Regions from separate parts of the Homo sapiens genome. Here all the other regions are reported to be linked to region 4. Evidence: microRNA targets listed by miRTarBase, many of them from high-throughput screens and not tested one by one. Region 4 holds a microRNA gene; each other region holds the end of a gene's coding sequence.
Evidence for each region. Region 4 holds the annotated microRNA hsa-miR-6822-5p (CAGGGAACCAGUUGGGGCUU, at 1,301-1,320, opposite strand). A microRNA usually pairs through its seed, bases 2 to 8, with sites in the 3' UTR of a target mRNA and lowers its output. Matches are read on the target gene's strand: a 7mer-m8 pairs with bases 2 to 8, a 7mer-A1 pairs with bases 2 to 7 and ends in A, and an 8mer does both.

Region 1: miRTarBase lists TM9SF4 as a target of hsa-miR-6822-5p. Seed matches in the 3' UTR shown: 7mer-m8 at 3,189-3,195 and 7mer-A1 at 1,799-1,805.
Region 2: miRTarBase lists ZFAND2B as a target of hsa-miR-6822-5p. Seed matches in the 3' UTR shown: 7mer-m8 at 2,697-2,703.
Region 3: the mRNA of BICRAL is a reported target of hsa-miR-6822-5p. Seed matches in the 3' UTR shown: 7mer-A1 at 2,577-2,583 and 7mer-A1 at 968-974.

What each region holds. Positions count from the first base shown.
Region 1 is chr20:32,165,151-32,168,889 of GRCh38, reverse strand. It overlaps TM9SF4 (transmembrane 9 superfamily member 4), which reads right to left. Exons shown (of 18, transcript NM_014742.4): 18 at 1,634-3,595. The coding sequence ends at 3,446. Among named protein-coding and RNA genes, the nearest start is that of PLAGL2, 41 kb to the left of the region's middle. RefSeq lists enhancers at 50-344, 3,210-3,710.
Region 2 is chr2:219,208,401-219,212,200 of GRCh38, reverse strand. It overlaps ZFAND2B (zinc finger AN1-type containing 2B), which reads right to left. Exons shown (of 9, transcript NM_138802.3): 6 at 3,715-3,775; 7 at 3,562-3,629; 8 at 3,152-3,224; 9 at 2,553-2,939. The coding sequence ends at 2,895. It overlaps ABCB6 (ATP binding cassette subfamily B member 6 (LAN blood group)), which reads left to right. Exons shown (of 19, transcript NM_005689.4): 15 at 1,093-1,267; 16 at 1,378-1,490; 17 at 1,726-1,820; 18 at 1,903-1,971; 19 at 2,155-2,429. The coding sequence ends at 2,263. Among named protein-coding and RNA genes, the nearest start is that of ZFAND2B, 3.5 kb to the right of the region's middle.
Region 3 is chr6:42,864,874-42,868,673 of GRCh38, reverse strand. It overlaps BICRAL (BICRA like chromatin remodeling complex associated protein), which reads right to left. Exons shown (of 13, transcript NM_001393499.1): 13 at 118-3,800. The coding sequence ends at 3,228. Among named protein-coding and RNA genes, the nearest start is that of RPL7L1, 13 kb to the left of the region's middle.
Region 4 is chr3:39,135,731-39,139,530 of GRCh38, reverse strand. It overlaps MIR6822 (microRNA 6822), which reads right to left and starts at 1,325; the gene lies at 1,265-1,325. It overlaps TTC21A (tetratricopeptide repeat domain 21A), which reads right to left. Exons shown (of 29, transcript NM_001366900.1): 23 at 3,024-3,174; 24 at 2,471-2,632; 25 at 2,144-2,336; 26 at 1,821-2,045; 27 at 1,144-1,264; 28 at 908-975; 29 at 631-820. The coding sequence ends at 743. RefSeq lists an enhancer at 2,384-3,289.

The sequences.
Region 1 (3,739 bases), not on the chromosome of region 4:
AAGGTGGAGAGCTGGCATGTGCAGAGATTACATGGGGAGAGAAGTGGGGGTTGCAGGGAGGTGCCAGGCTCTTTTTAACAACCAGCTTTCTTAGGAGCTAAGAGAGAACTCACTCACCTCCTCTGCTCCCACCTCCCCCAGTGCACTAATCTATTCATGAGGAATCTGCTCCCATGACCCAAACACTTCCCATTAGGCTCCACCTCCAACACTGGGGATCAAATTTCCACATGAGGTTTGGAGGGGACAAGCATGATGTTGAGAGGCTAGAGGGCAGGATTATAAAGAAAGGCATGAGGAAACCTGGGTATGCTCACAATTGAGATTGTGGTGATAATTTCATGGGTGTGTGTATCAAGACTTATCAAACTGCAGTTCATTTTACATCAATTACATATAATTTTACACACACACACACACACACAGCCCTTTAAAAAGGCGGCTAGAGAGGTTGGAAGGACAGATTCAGAAGTCTGGCTGTCCCAGGTGAACACTACTCCACCCATCATGGGACATCACCCCCCATCCTGCCCCAGCAGGTTACCTCAACTGCTTGGTGCCTCAGTGACCACCTCTGTAAAAGGGGGCTAATAACAGAAGCTGTCTCAGGGGCACGTTGTTATCTTGTATCATATCCAAGATTAAATGGGCTAACCCATGGAAAGTGTTTGGAACATCAGAACACAGGAAGTACTCCATAAATAGTAACAAGCACCTTTCCCATTGCAGATGAGGAACTGAGGCTTGGGGTTGGGGTGGCGGGGTGGTGGGTAACAGGCCACTGTTTTGGTCTGTTTCGCATCCCTTACCATGGGAAATGGTTCTTTCCTCATCAACCATTCTAAGTAATTCTGGTAGGGCTGAAATTCACAGTATCCAACACCTTCAGGGAAAGTGGCCCCAAATCATACTCCAACCCCCTGGATATAGTGATTGGTGCAAGATGTTCAAATAATAATCCAAGCTGGGCCAATCAGAAATGTTTCCTGAAATTCCTCTATATTGAATAAACTGAAGTGGGAAGGGACATCTTCCCCTACCCCAGCCCCCCGGCATACCCAAGTGGATCATGTAAGTCTGGAGTGATTGGCATCCTGCCCTCCCTGCCTCACCCATCAGGAGGAAGACTGTGGATAACAGGACAGAGTGACGCCGGAGAGGAGCACAGTGGAAAAGGGGAAAGAGCCCTAAGGCTATCCTTTGAGCCCCTGGATCCAGCCAGACCTGAAGCAAAATAAACAAAATCCTTGATGACTTAAGAACCAATCAATTCATTTTTGGGCTAAAACCAGTTTGACCGATGTTTCTGTTGCTTACAATTGAAGAACTGGGTTTCATAGAGTGAGATGAGCTGACAGTAAAAGACTGAAGCTGGGAATCCAAAACCAGATCTTGCTGCTACCAAAACACACTTGATTGTCATTTCCTGCTTGTGGGATCAGAAGAGCAAATGACTGCAATTTAGTATGGAGGGGCTAGGCAATGGACTTGTACCAGGCAGGGAACAACAGTGGCTTGAGCCCTGAAGTGTGACACGAGAATGAGCTTCGGGGGAAACTGTGCAACTCAACCCACTCGGGGAAGGTGTCTCACCTCAGACCTCCAACCCCTGCATGAGATTCAAGACAAAACAGTAGGACAATGGTATATTTATTTACAATCCGACCAAAAAAAGGCATACAGGCATTTTTTTAATTAAAAATAATAATGATAATGATTTAAAAAGTCAGAAAAATTGATGATCTTTGAACCCTTTATGAGGTGTCCGTTTCCCATTCCCCCTAAAAAGAGAATCTCTTAGGGAAAAAAAAAAATCCAAGATTTGAATGAACAAAAGACTCCAATATCGCTCTCTACTGCTTGGGTTCCCTTTTCTCCAACTTGATGCTTGGTGGATGCCGCTTGGCGCTGCAGTCACTGTGAGGCAAGATTGAGAAATTCACTGGTTTGATGGGTGAGGCTGGTAGAGCCACTGGGAGAATGTGGGGCAGTGAGGGGAGGGACATCTTCCTAGCATCACCAGCATCCTGAGCTTTGTCTTGTGTTGGGAGTCCCACAAGGGCTGGTGCAAGGGTTAGCAGCTGCTACTTGAACCCTAATCCCTGGGTGGATGTGGTCTCTTGTAACTTAAGAGCAAATGTTTGTGATGACATGCACGGGTGGGCAGAGGTTGAAAAGAACAGGGGTCTACGGAGGAGCCAGGCCAGCCACGTGAGACCCTTCTTTCTAAGTTGGCTTCTTGTCCATTCCTGGGGATTGGGGAAAGAACGACAGAACTTACCTTCCATCTTCCTTCTCACAAGCAGTGTTTTGGGTGTCCCCAAAAGGAGGAGGCAAGAACTCAGGTGTGGGGTGGAGGGGATGGGGCTGGCTAAAGAAGTGAGTATGACCCCAGAGGCCAGAGAGGGCAGGGAGAGAATGCCTGGCCACTTACAGGAGGGGATCTGTAATCTCTGGGCCTCCCTGTTCTGCCTGAAGTTGGGCAGGGCCCACTGCTAGCACACCTTGGAGAGCGGTACCTCCTGAGGAAAGGGCTGGGGAGTGATCCTGAGGGGTAAGGACCCTAGCGGCCTTGGCCATCCCTTCCCAGACACAGACAAGTGGATGCTTGGCTTGGGAAATACTTGGCCCCAGGTCCAGGGTTTCTTGGCACAAAAACAGTTCACTGCAAGTCTCTTCTCTTCTTCCTTGTGGTCCAGCAAACTCCGGCTGCTCTGAACAGGGGCAATTCCTGCTGTCTGGGGAACCTGGCCCCCAGTACTTCCAGGGGATTTTCTTGTAGCAACTAAGACTTGGGTTTGCTCCTGGTGAAAAGATGACCCCGAGGCCTGGCTGGAAACCCTGCCTTGGGCAGCCCTGGAGGAGGCTGGGGAGAAGAGGGAAAGAGAGGTCTGGCAGAGGCTGGCTGGCACTGAGGGTGCTGTCCGAGCTGGAGCTGTGCTTTGTCGTGGCCTCAGTGGTGAGGATGGGCAGGGAGAGGCTCGGAAACCTCACTGAAGCTCTGGCGTGTCCTCTTCCAGTTAGTCATAGGGTGGCCAACAGCCCTGAGGAACTGAGGTGGAGACAGTGACCAAAACCCTTATCTCGGTGGATTTATCCATCCTGGATCCATTTGTTAAAACAAAGAAGGAAAAAAAAATCCAAACCAGAAATACACCTGAATAAACAGGTCAGAGAGTTCCTGTTGGAGGGAACTTTCTTAGCACTGAAGAAAAAGCAACCCACAAAAAAACTCATCCCCCACAGAACTGGAATAAGATGACGAAAAACGCAAGATTATCTACAGGCCCTCCCGCCCCCCACGCAGCCCCAGGATCCAGGAACACTGTGCCAGGAGTTACATTCCAAACGAGCAGGAGTTATTTTATTTTGCGTGCCTGCAGTCCCCCACGCAGGGTGGCTTCCTGTCCGAGGACGGAGCAAGCTTGGCCGTGGTCCACTCCAATCAGTCTATCTTCACAGCAGCATAGATCTTGCGAACAAACATGTAGGCTGCATAGAAGCCGATGGTACCCGTTAGCAGCCAGAAGGACAAGACCATGAGGGCCGTGTAGCCAAAGTAGAGGAGAGAGGGGATGAACTCCACGATGTCCAGCTGCGGCCACGAGCAGAAAGAAGACAGGGTGCATGCTTAGTGCCAGGCTGCATGGCGAACTGGGGCCCCACTCTCACTGATATCATGGGGAAACTGAGGCCTGGCCAGGGGAAGGGGCGTGCTCCAGTGGGTGGCAAGCGGCAG
Region 2 (3,800 bases), not on the chromosome of region 4:
AAAGGGCTGGGCGCAGTGGCTCATGCCTATAATCCCAGCACTTTGGGAGGCCGAGGCAGGTGGATCACTTGAGCCCAGGAGTTCAAGACCAGCCTGGGCAACATGGCAAAACACCCTCTCTACAAAAAATACAAAAATTGCTGGGCGCGGTGGCTCACACCTGTAATCCCAGTACTTTGGGAGGCTGAGGTGGGCGGATCACAAGGTCAGGAGATCGAGACCATCCTGGCTAACACAGTGAAACCCCGTCTCTACGAAAAATACAAAAAATTTGCTGGGCGTGGTGGCGGGCGCCTGTAGTCCCAGCTACTCGGGAAGCTGAGGCAGGAGAATGGTGTGAACCCAGGAGGCGGAGCTTGCAGTGAGCCGAGATGGCGCCACTGCACTCCAGCCTGGGCAAGAGTGCAAGACTCTGTCTCAAAAAAAAAAAAAAAAATTAGCTGGCCATGGTGGCACACACATGTAGTCCCACCAGGAGGCTGTAGTGAGCTATGATCATGCCACTGCACTCCAGCCTGGGTGACAGAGCAAGGCCCTGTCTCAAAACAAAAAGCAAAACAAAAAAAAAAAAAAAAAAAAGGTACAACGATATTCTGTAGCCAGGTGTGGTGGCTCACACCTGTAATCCCAACACTTTAGGAGGTCAAGGCAGCAGGATCATTTGAGTCCAGGATTTTGAGACCAGCCTGGGCAACATACCTGGCAACCCCATCTCAACAAAAAATTAAAAATTAGCTTGACGTAGTCTCAAGCACCTGTGGTCTCAGCTACTCAGGAAGCTGAGGTAGGAGGATTGCATGAGCCAGGAGGTCAAGGCTGCAGTAAGCCGAGATTTTGCCACTGCAGTCCAGCCTGGGTGACAGAGTGGACTCTATCCAAAAACAAAACAAAACATCTGCAGCAATCTGGTGAAGCAGGAAGAGAAGATGGGGAAACAGAGAGGAGTGATTTGCCCACACGGCTAGGATATGGGGCAGTGATGGTGGGATTATTACCACAGCCTCTTATCCCACGTGCTTCCGGCCAGCCCACCCTGCCTCCCAGGCCTTGGGGGTATCTCATAAGGCAGAGTGTGTGGTCTTTTGGCCCTAGGTGACCCAGGCCTCTCTCCGGTCTCACATTGGAGTTGTGCCCCAAGACACTGTCCTCTTTAATGACACCATCGCCGACAATATCCGTTACGGCCGTGTCACAGCTGGGAATGATGAGGTGGAGGCTGCTGCTCAGGCTGCAGGCATCCATGATGCCATTATGGCTTTCCCTGAAGGTGAGAGATTCCTTTGCAGAGAGTCCCCTCCCCTCCTGGTGTTGTCCTGCTAATCCCTGACCCCTGTTCCCTCCGTTTCGTAAGAAACGTGTGGTGGGTAATATCCACAGGGTACAGGACACAGGTGGGCGAGCGGGGACTGAAGCTGAGCGGCGGGGAGAAGCAGCGCGTCGCCATTGCCCGCACCATCCTCAAGGCTCCGGGCATCATTCTGCTGGATGAGGTGCGCCCTGGGTCTCCTCCCCTCCTTCCTGCCTTGTGTATGCTCAAGCCGTTCCTCCTGGGCACTGTCCCCACCTAGAACAGATACCATGAATTCAAATCTCACAAAACACACTTTCCAGTTCTCAAGCCCAAACAAGGCTCTTGTGTATTCTTGAGGCCTCAGCCAGCAGCCTGCCTCCTTCCATTGAGGGTTTTGAGTGGCAGGAGCAGTTTTACCTGGACCCTCTCTATAGGCAACGTCAGCGCTGGATACATCTAATGAGAGGGCCATCCAGGCTTCTCTGGCCAAAGTCTGTGCCAACCGCACCACCATCGTAGTGGCACACAGGTACAGGACTACAGGCCTGGGGCGGCTGGTGATGTGGCCCGCTTTGGGTGGGGTAGTAGGCGACTGATCTTTGACTTCTCAGGCTCTCAACTGTGGTCAATGCTGACCAGATCCTCGTCATCAAGGATGGCTGCATCGTGGAGAGGGGACGGTAAGAGACACATAGATCAAAAGGACAGGTCTTCTGAATTGGGGGCTCCAGGAAAGGGGGCATGAAGTCCCAGGGGCTTCTGGAGGGGACCTCCCTTCCCATCCCGTCCTCTCTGTGGGCTGGTGGCAAGGACCCTCGGGGTAAAACTAATGGTTAGGACTCACACTTTTCTCCTCACCCCAGACACGAGGCTCTGTTGTCCCGAGGTGGGGTGTATGCTGACATGTGGCAGCTGCAGCAGGGACAGGAAGAAACCTCTGAAGACACTAAGCCTCAGACCATGGAACGGTGACAAAAGTTTGGCCACTTCCCTCTCAAAGACTAACCCAGAAGGGAATAAGATGTGTCTCCTTTCCCTGGCTTATTTCATCCTGGTCTTGGGGTATGGTGCTAGCTATGGTAAGGGAAAGGGACCTTTCCGAAAAACATCTTTTGGGGAAATAAAAATGTGGACTGTGCGAGGATCACTGTGGCTTTGTGGGATGGGGTACTGCAGCGGGCCTCTACCCATAAGTCAGATGAGCATTCTTGACACGGCTTTCCTGTTTGAGGTTAGAGAGGAGAGAGAAACACACCACTTGTACGTTTTATCAACTGCCAAGATCCTTTATTTTTTCCAGGCCCCTTCCTGCCCACTCCACATCGGGGCAGCTCCAGCATAAGGGAGATGACATGATGAAGGGGCTAAGAGTAGGGCCTGGCCAGCATCCACTGAGGGCCCAACCAGGGAACAGTTGCTAGCCGCTCTCTTCCATGCAGCTGGAGCACTAGCAAGGCCTTCCAGAGGCTCCCAGGGCGACCTCCACATCACTCCCGCTTGTCTCTGCCCTCCAGGGTGCTCCGGGCCTCCTCTCCCTGTGTACCCTAGAGGTGTGAGGGCCACAGTCCTCCTCAGGTGAACCTCCCTCCCCAAGCCCAGGGCCCTAGCACAGGCTGCAGTTGGACGGCTTCGAGCTGCGGCTCTGGGCCTAGAGCAAAGAGAGGGGAAGGAGGGGAAGACACAGTGCAACGTCAAGGAAATGAGGGACAGCCCTCATTTCAGAGCTCAGCATGGGCTGGAGTCATACTGAAAACCAGACGATAACCACCATTCCAAAACTCTGCACCACTAGGAAGAACCCCCATCCCTGACTTCTTCCTCCCTTCCACTGCAGCATATATCTTCAGCCCAGCCTCATACCTGCTGCCGCTGGTATTCTGCCTCACTGGCTGACAGTGCTTGTGCTAAAGCTAGGTCTTCTTCCTCCTGACAACTGGGAGGGAGAAACAGTTTAAGTTGGATGATGGTAAGATCTGAAATTTGAACATCTGATCTGTGTGTGTTGGGCCTCATGGTGCTGAGCACTGCTGAGGATTATCTCAATCTTCATAGCAACACTACAAGGTGGGTATTAGTATTGTCCCCGTTTTATAGAGGAAATGAAGGCTCCATGGGTTAAATAACTTGTCAAAGATCATATAGTTCATCTTAATTTTGAGACCAAGTTGCCAGCGATTATCTTGCATTGTGTCAGAGTGGTCCCACCTACCTGCCTCCAGACCAAGCCCTTGCCCACAGCTTGCGCTCTCTTTCACAAGAGGGTAAGGTACCTTGGAACCTGGGGTTTGGTTTCTGCCAGGGACATTTCCAGGGCCCGCTGCAGAGCTTCATCCTCACTCTACAAAGGGAGAAAGAAGACCAGCGTCCTTGGACTTCACTCTCTGTGTGTTTGTTTCTGTCCATCCAACCTCTGCCCAACTCACCAGGCCATTCTGCAAAGCAATCACTGGAGGGGCTGTCCAGGACGGAGATCGGGTTGTGGCTCTACGACAGACATTGAAGAGGTGGA
Region 3 (3,800 bases), not on the chromosome of region 4:
AATTGATTTTGGTATTGGTAAATCTATTAAAATAGAATTCCCATTGAACACTTACCCTTTTCTTCTGGGAAAAGTAGCCATTCCTATTTGCAAAATCAAGACAATCACAGTTGCACATTTTCCCAAATCTTTGGCTGTATTGCAATGGTTGTTTCAATTTGTAATCTCCAACTAAACATTTCCTAACCATGGATTAACAATATAGTTACTGACTGGTTTCTTTTAACAGTATTTATCCAACATAACAAAATAAACTGCAATTTGTTATAGTTTTTTTTTTTTTACAAAACATTTTATAAATATTTTTACAAAATGTATACAAAGCAATTTCAAGTGAGACGTACTATACAAATGAAGGTATTTAAGCAAATAAAGCCCACACCACACTGACAGCGAGTGACGCGTCCTCTTTAAGTAAAGTCAGTCTGTAAGGCCTCCCTAATCTAACAGAATCTACTAAATCCTTCAGAGCTAAAATATTTCTTTTTCATAATTGCCAGATTAAAATTTTGCTTCATCTTCAGGAAGTACTTAAGGACACAGAAAATCAAATGCTTAATAACAAATTCACGCTTTTCCACAACAGAAAAAAAAAAAAAAAAAGAAAATGATTTTTGTTACTGAGTACAAATAGTTCTAAAACTTAACTTTGACGAATGAACCTGAACAACTGAATGTTGGCCATCCGAGGCTGAGCTCTCCTACCCTTCACTAGAGGGGGCTCGACATGCGAGTTATGACCCATGTGCGTAGAACCTAATCACAGGAGTGAAATACATGTCATAATCTTCATTTGTCATTATCTAGAATCCTTCCTCCATAAAAAGTAAACTTACATACAATGACACAAAAATTTACAAGTTTCATTTTGGTAAATTAGGCTCTCCATTTGCTAGACAAGTGTTAGGGCTTAAAAACCCTTTAGGATGGTATATAGAAAAGCTAGGATTGGGACAGCAGGGCAGGATAGGGAAGAAAGAGAGGTGACAAATGTACATGAAGCTTATCTTGTCTCTTGAGAATTCCACTGATTTGCAGTAATTAATGTAACTCACTAGCAGCCCACATGAAGGCTTCCAGGGATAAAGTTCTGCAATGAGAAGAATTTGATTAGGAAGGATCATCTTGCTAGGAATTAGGGGAGCATGAGCCCCAAGGGAAGAAAAGCCTATGAAATCATGGAGTTTAGGGCAGGGTGTTACCCTAGGACTACCCAAACAGAAAGTACCAACTGGCGACACCAACTTATCTAATATGTTACAATACAGGAAAAAGGGGAAATCTGCAACTTGGACATTGGCACAAATAAGGAAAAAATGGTAACCCTAAAATGGGCCAGATTTTCCAATTTGTATTGGCTGGGGCATGTGGCTGGGGTGAAGGTACGTTGCTATTATGAAGACTGGCCATCTCACAGGGTTTTCTGTGTGTAGTGGGACACAGGGGCACCGGGGTATAGGTCTTCTGTTGCTGTGTTTTCTAATTAGAAGCCTTCCTTTCCATCACAGGCCAATCTGGAAAAGAAATGCCCAACATGATGACAATGGGGGTCATCCCCATGTTGGCGACAGCCAGAAGCAGATTCTGGCAACACATTAAAGTGAAGACCAGTGGCTGCACCTCCAGAGCCAGGGAGATAAACAGAATAAATGAGAGAGTATGCACACTAAGAAGGAGAGTGAGTGTGCACACACTGTAACAAAAATGACCTCTGGATCCGAGCAGCTCAGATACATGCACGTGTGTGTATGTGTGGGAGAAGAGTGCATAAAAATACTATCATGTAGCTTTCCCAATGAGAGGAGATAAGTGATGGTTACAATGACATTAAGAATAAAGGTAACAACAGAAATGGGATAACCTGGGGCAGGTATACGAGAAAGGAAAACGGAGAATACTCCCTGACAAGAAATAAAAATAAATAAAGCAGTAAGCCATGCTCACTAATATGAACACAGGCCAAACAGAAACCATGACAGGGCATATCCTTTGGCTCTCAAATGGGAATCCCATGTCTCAGATCTTTCCTTTCAGTGGTGGGCTAGCTGGTTACCTTTGGTTTGTCTGTGTTTTGGTAATGAATTGCTGCCAGGGGTCACTACTGTTCTCAGACAAGAAGCATAAACAAGGCCAGAGTCTCCTTAAAGTTTAAACTGAAAAATTACAACATAATAATTTTCAAATGAAAGTGCTTTTGATGCTTGGTATTTGTTGTGGGAGAGGGTGCAAAGAGAGGTTAAATGAAACAAAATCCAGCAACAAACAAAAACATACATTATATGTTGACTATATCCAATTATAAAATGCAAAACTTGTTTTTTCTCAATAGTTAACATATATATGCTTTTACATATATACATATTAATATTATAACCCTCATGGCTCTATCCCGGCCTCCTCTGTACACTGTGCCTCTTAACTGGTTTCCATTTTCCTTTATTTAGCCTGGTGAAATTATTTCAAATTTTGCTGCTGTAACTAAGAACAGAACATTCCCTAGGTGAAATTCAACATAGATATGCCTAAAAGCATGAGGTTTTGCTCCGGAAGCATCAGAAAAGCACTTGAACCATCAATAGGGAAGCCCTGCAATGCCCTGCGTATGTGCTACTGGCTTTTCCACCAGGGCTGCGGGTCCCTGGCAGCACAGCCAGCAATTTACTGCTCAAAGATGGCTGAGGGGGAAGAACCATGTGGTCTTCCCCTCAACAATAACAACAAAACACACACAAAAAAACTCAAAATAATAATAATAAAAAAACCCAAAACTAAATTTGCAGATGCAGTGGGATATTCTTTAAAAAGTAGCTTCTATCCGTCTCGTTTGATTTTAGTAAGTCTGTTCTTTTCAAATGACTTATGATTGTCAAAATTTTACCAAGGGCCAAGTATACTGTGGTCTCATTGAGTTACAGTGTTTTTAAAAAACAAAACAAATAAACAAAATGCCTATAAGCACTTTCATAACACTTGAAATGAGTGGGGCCTATCAGACTGCTTTCTGCCAAGGATTAATTTTACTAAAGGATCTCCCTGTAATCACGACAAGTATTGCTCTTAAACAAAGAACAGGATTGAGATTAGAAAGAATAACCTGTGATGAAAGATCAAGCAGGCTGGAGACAGGAGACCATTTCCATTTGCTTTTGCCAGGAACGAATGTAACTGGTCCGGGGTGGGGTCTCGGGGTGGGGTCTCGGGGCGGGGTAGGGGGAGGACTGCTGCTATTAACACTCTAGGATACTATTTACAGCTGCTTCTAAAATGGAGTCAGTTTCTACAACACCTTCACTGTGGTCCGGGATGAACTTTTCCAGGCAGTTTTCCTGTGAAGCCATAGGAGAAAAGTTGGGGAAATCTAACTCAACAGAGCCGCTAACCGTGGGGTCACTCTGGGGCTGCCGTCCCGCCTTTTTGAGTTCCAAGATGTTCTTAAATGTGGTTTCCAAGCTCTTTGTCAGCTGGAGATCTGGCTGGGGTTCGCCTGACCCTTTCATGATGTCTGTGTGTAAAACTTCATTCTTTGGAGAATTCCTCAGACTTTTGTCCTGGAAGGAATTGTTACACGTCATCTCCAAGTGCGAATCTGCTAGGATGCTTGACAGTTTGCTCTCAGTACCATGATCCGATCTGGATGAGGTTTTCCGGTGCCCCTCAGGGCCGGGAGAGCACTGACTGGCCTTCAGAGGCTCTCTCCGGCTGGCCTTCTCTTCAGACGTGCTCTGGTACTGCACTAAGCCCACTTTGTCAAATTTCAGTGCTCTGCCAAGGCATTCTGTTTTTTTAGAAATGTTTCCTTC
Region 4 (3,800 bases):
GGCAGTGTATTTTGTAAAAGCTGAAGTGGGAACTATTTTTTCTTGGCATGTATTTCCTTGTGCCAGGCGAGGGTAGTCAGGTTTGTCCCAAACTGGTAAGGACTAGAAGAAGCCAGCTGGACTTGGCGGGGAGTGGGGGTGCGGGGGGCAGGGGCAAGGGAAACAATGCATGGACAGGGTGGGACAATGGCTCTTGCACCCTGCAGGCCCTCTCACACAGGGCCTTAGCTGTGCGGGCCTTCTGCAGTTAATCCTCCTGTCTGGGCCCACTGCCCACAGCATCCTGGGCCCACCGCCAGGCAGACTCAGGGTAGCATGGCAGGGAGAAGTATCTGCTTCTTTAGCTCCAGGATCCTGGAGACCAGACAGGAGAGGGGCAACAACCATTGAAAAACAGCTGAAGGGGATTCTTTTCAACCACCATTCCACTAGGAGCCCCCTCTTTGCTCCCCTCCGCCCCCTCAAAGAGTCTGGGATAAAAGCGAGGTCTGTTAGAAAGCGCCCAATGAGCCCAGCAAAAGTTAAGCCAGTTGATGTCTTTCTTCCCAGAGCAAAATTTCTTGTGCCTTAAAAACATAAAGTTAGGTCAGATGAGACATGACTCAAAATAAACCACATACACTATAGAAATGGGGAAGAATGTGTCATTTTCTGAATCCCTTCTCCACTGACCCACTTTCCATCCCTCCACACAACTTCAGTAGGTTGATGGCTTCTACTGGTCCAGGCCCCTTGACCCCAGCTAGGGCCTCAGGGACCTTCGGGCCTTTTCCAAAATTTCCTCCCTGATCTTGGGGTAGTCGGGGTGCTCCCTGAGGACCTGGAACAGAGAGAGAATGGGTGTGCAGTATCATGCAGGTTTCCCCACCACTACACCAGGCCCTCCCCACCAAGGCTGCTGGCTTACATCGTTGCAGATTTCAATGGCCTCCACAAATTTCTTGTCCTTCAGGTAGTTGAAAGCAAGTTTGAAGCCTACCGGGGACATGGAGAGCAAAGATGGTGGCACCCTGGTGACCTGAGAACCCCTCTGGTTCTCATAACAGCCAGGGTACAGGCCTTGAGTTCTGGGGTCATGGTGGGGGCCCTCCTGCCCACCTCCCTCCCACGTCCATTCACGTGCACCCTGGCTGGTTGCCTTACCAATGGCAGGGTTGGCGTGATGACTGTACTTCCAGGCCAGTTTGTAGTTGGTGACTGCATCCTTGTAGGACTGCTCCTTCTCCATGATGAAGCCCATGTACTCATAGGCCTTGTAGCAGGACTGCAGGGAAAGCCAGTTAGAGCCTCTGCAGAGCGGAAGCCCCAACTGGTTCCCTGGGCCAGGGTGGGACTGGGACCAGAACCAGAAGCAGGCAAGGGACAGAAGTGAGCTGCCATAAACCAAACTGCCAAGGGACCCCAGGGGTACCCCAACCTTTGCAAGAAGCCAACTGTGTGCCCTCCTCTCAGCTACCCCAGACACTGGCGTAACCCCTTTCCCTGTAGCCCTCCTGTTCCGCCACTCCCATTCCTGGCCTGCTCTGACCTGCAAAAGTCCCTCCAGCTTGGAACCCATGAAGCTTTCCCATCTCTTTCTGTCCTTTAGTGTTCCCTCCTCTGGACATAACACGACCCCTGTGCACCTCCTCTCACCTGGTCCATCGCCCTTGATCCTCATTCCTATTCTGGTCTGTCGCCCATGTGCCCCTCTCAGCCTGCCTCTTCCCGACTAGTTCTTATTCCATATGGCCTCTACCTGCAAAGCCTGCTTCACCTTCCTGGAATGCCTAGAATCCTTTCCGCCATCCCGCAGCCCTAGTGTGTGTGTGGCTCCTTGCCTTGTTGTATTGCACACAGCGCCGCAGCAGTTCTAAGGCGAGGTCGAACTTGCTGCCCTGGCAGTAAATGTCAGCCAGCAGGAGCCAGCTCTTCTCCAGGTCCTCAGCCTCACTCAGCACCCAGGGGGTCTTGGCCAGGCGCTTCAACTGCATACGCGCCTTGGGGATCTGCTTCAGGAACACGTAGGCTTGTGCCAAGGCCAGCAGGGCAGGGACGCTGTCCTTCTACACACCAGGTAGGAAGTGGACGTCAGCACGTGTTGGCCGCCTGGTCTTCTCGGCCCTGCCACCTGCCCATGCCCGCCAGTCCCCACCAGCCACACCTCAGCCTGCGCTATCTGGATGAAGCTGCCCAGCGCAGCCTCCATGTTAGCCTTCTCCCTGGTGGCCAGCCGGCAGAGGCCCTGCAGCAGCCGCAGCTGGGTCTGGCTGGAGTCTGAATGTGGGTAAAACTCACGCAGCAGTTTCTCGGCGGTGCTCACACCCTGCTGCTCCAACTCCTTCTTCTCCATGTAGCTGCAGGTGTTAGACCTGGGTATCAGACACAGGCCGGTGGCCTGCCCGTGTGGCCCTCACCTGGCTTCAACCCAGAGGTTGCAGGCTTTCTGTAACTTCCCCAGGGTTCCGCCCCTGCCTCCATGGGCCCTTACTTGCTCTCAGCTCCCTGGTTCTCAAAAGCCTCTCCGCCCACAACCTCGTTGTCTGGATTCAGACAGATCTGCACCATGTGGTAGATGGCGCTCTGGCCCCAAGTGCTGTCCTTGCGTGCCTTGTTCAGGAACTTTAAGGCTTCGTTGGGCTGCCCTATGTGCCTGTGGTGGAGAAAACACCAAGAATCAGTGAGGGAAACTGAGGCCCAGACAGGGCAGGGATATACAAGGACCACTTTGTGAGTCTGCACAAAGCAGAGGCTGGATCTCTGGTTTCCCAGCTCCCCTGGAGGAGATGCGGGCGTCGGACCTGTGTGTTGGATGCAGGCTGGTGGCCTGCCCAAGTGGCCCTCACCTGGCCTCCATCCAGAGGCTGCAGGCTCTCCCTGACTTCCACAGGGTTCCACCCCTGCCCCCATGGGCCCTCACTTGCTGGGTCCGGGTGTCCTGGAGGCAGAATTTCTGCTCCTTTTGTGCAGAGCAAGGGCCTAGCCTATCTGCCAGTAGGGCTTCCTGCACACAGCTGCCCCTCAACACACCACACCCAACTCACCAGCAGTAGATACCTCTGCAGTAATTGAACCCTGGTTCCAAAGGCACCCGGCTAGACACCTTCTTGGCCAATTCAAAGAAGGCAGGAATGTCTTCAAGTTTTCCACTTCTTCTTAGCAGATCGATTAATTTATGCAATACCAAAAAATTGTCTAAAATAAGAGACAGAAATCTCCAGGCTGAAATGCCCAGTAGCTGTTATCAGATGAGGGTGCTGGGGCCCTAGGAGAAGCCAAGAGATACTGCCCATCTGGGCTGAGCAGGGACATTCCAACAGCTCCAGAGTCTCCACTGGTCTCCAGGGTTGAGTAAAGAATAATACTAATGCTTAAAAATAGTAAAGAATAGCAGCTAACACTTATATAGCACTTATATTGTACCTGGTATTAAGTGCTTTACCTATATATTAACTGCAAGATTAGGTAGGTACCTAATCTTTTTTTTTTTTTTTGAGACGGAGTCTCGCCCTGTCACCCAGGCTGGAGTGCAGTGGCGTGATCTCGGCTCACTGCAAGCTCTGCCTCCTGGGTTCATGCCATTTTCCTGCCTCAGCCCACCCCCGAGTAGCTGGGACTACAGGCACCCGCCACCACGCCCGGCCAATTTTTTTGTATTTTTAGTAGAGACAGGGTTTCACCGTGTAGCCAGGATGGTTTCGATCCCCTGACCTTGTGATCTGCCCGCCTCGGGTTCCCAAAGTGCTAGGATTACAGGTGTGAGCCACCATGCCCGGCCTAGGTAGGTACTCTTATTGTGTCTGTTTTACAGATGAGGACAC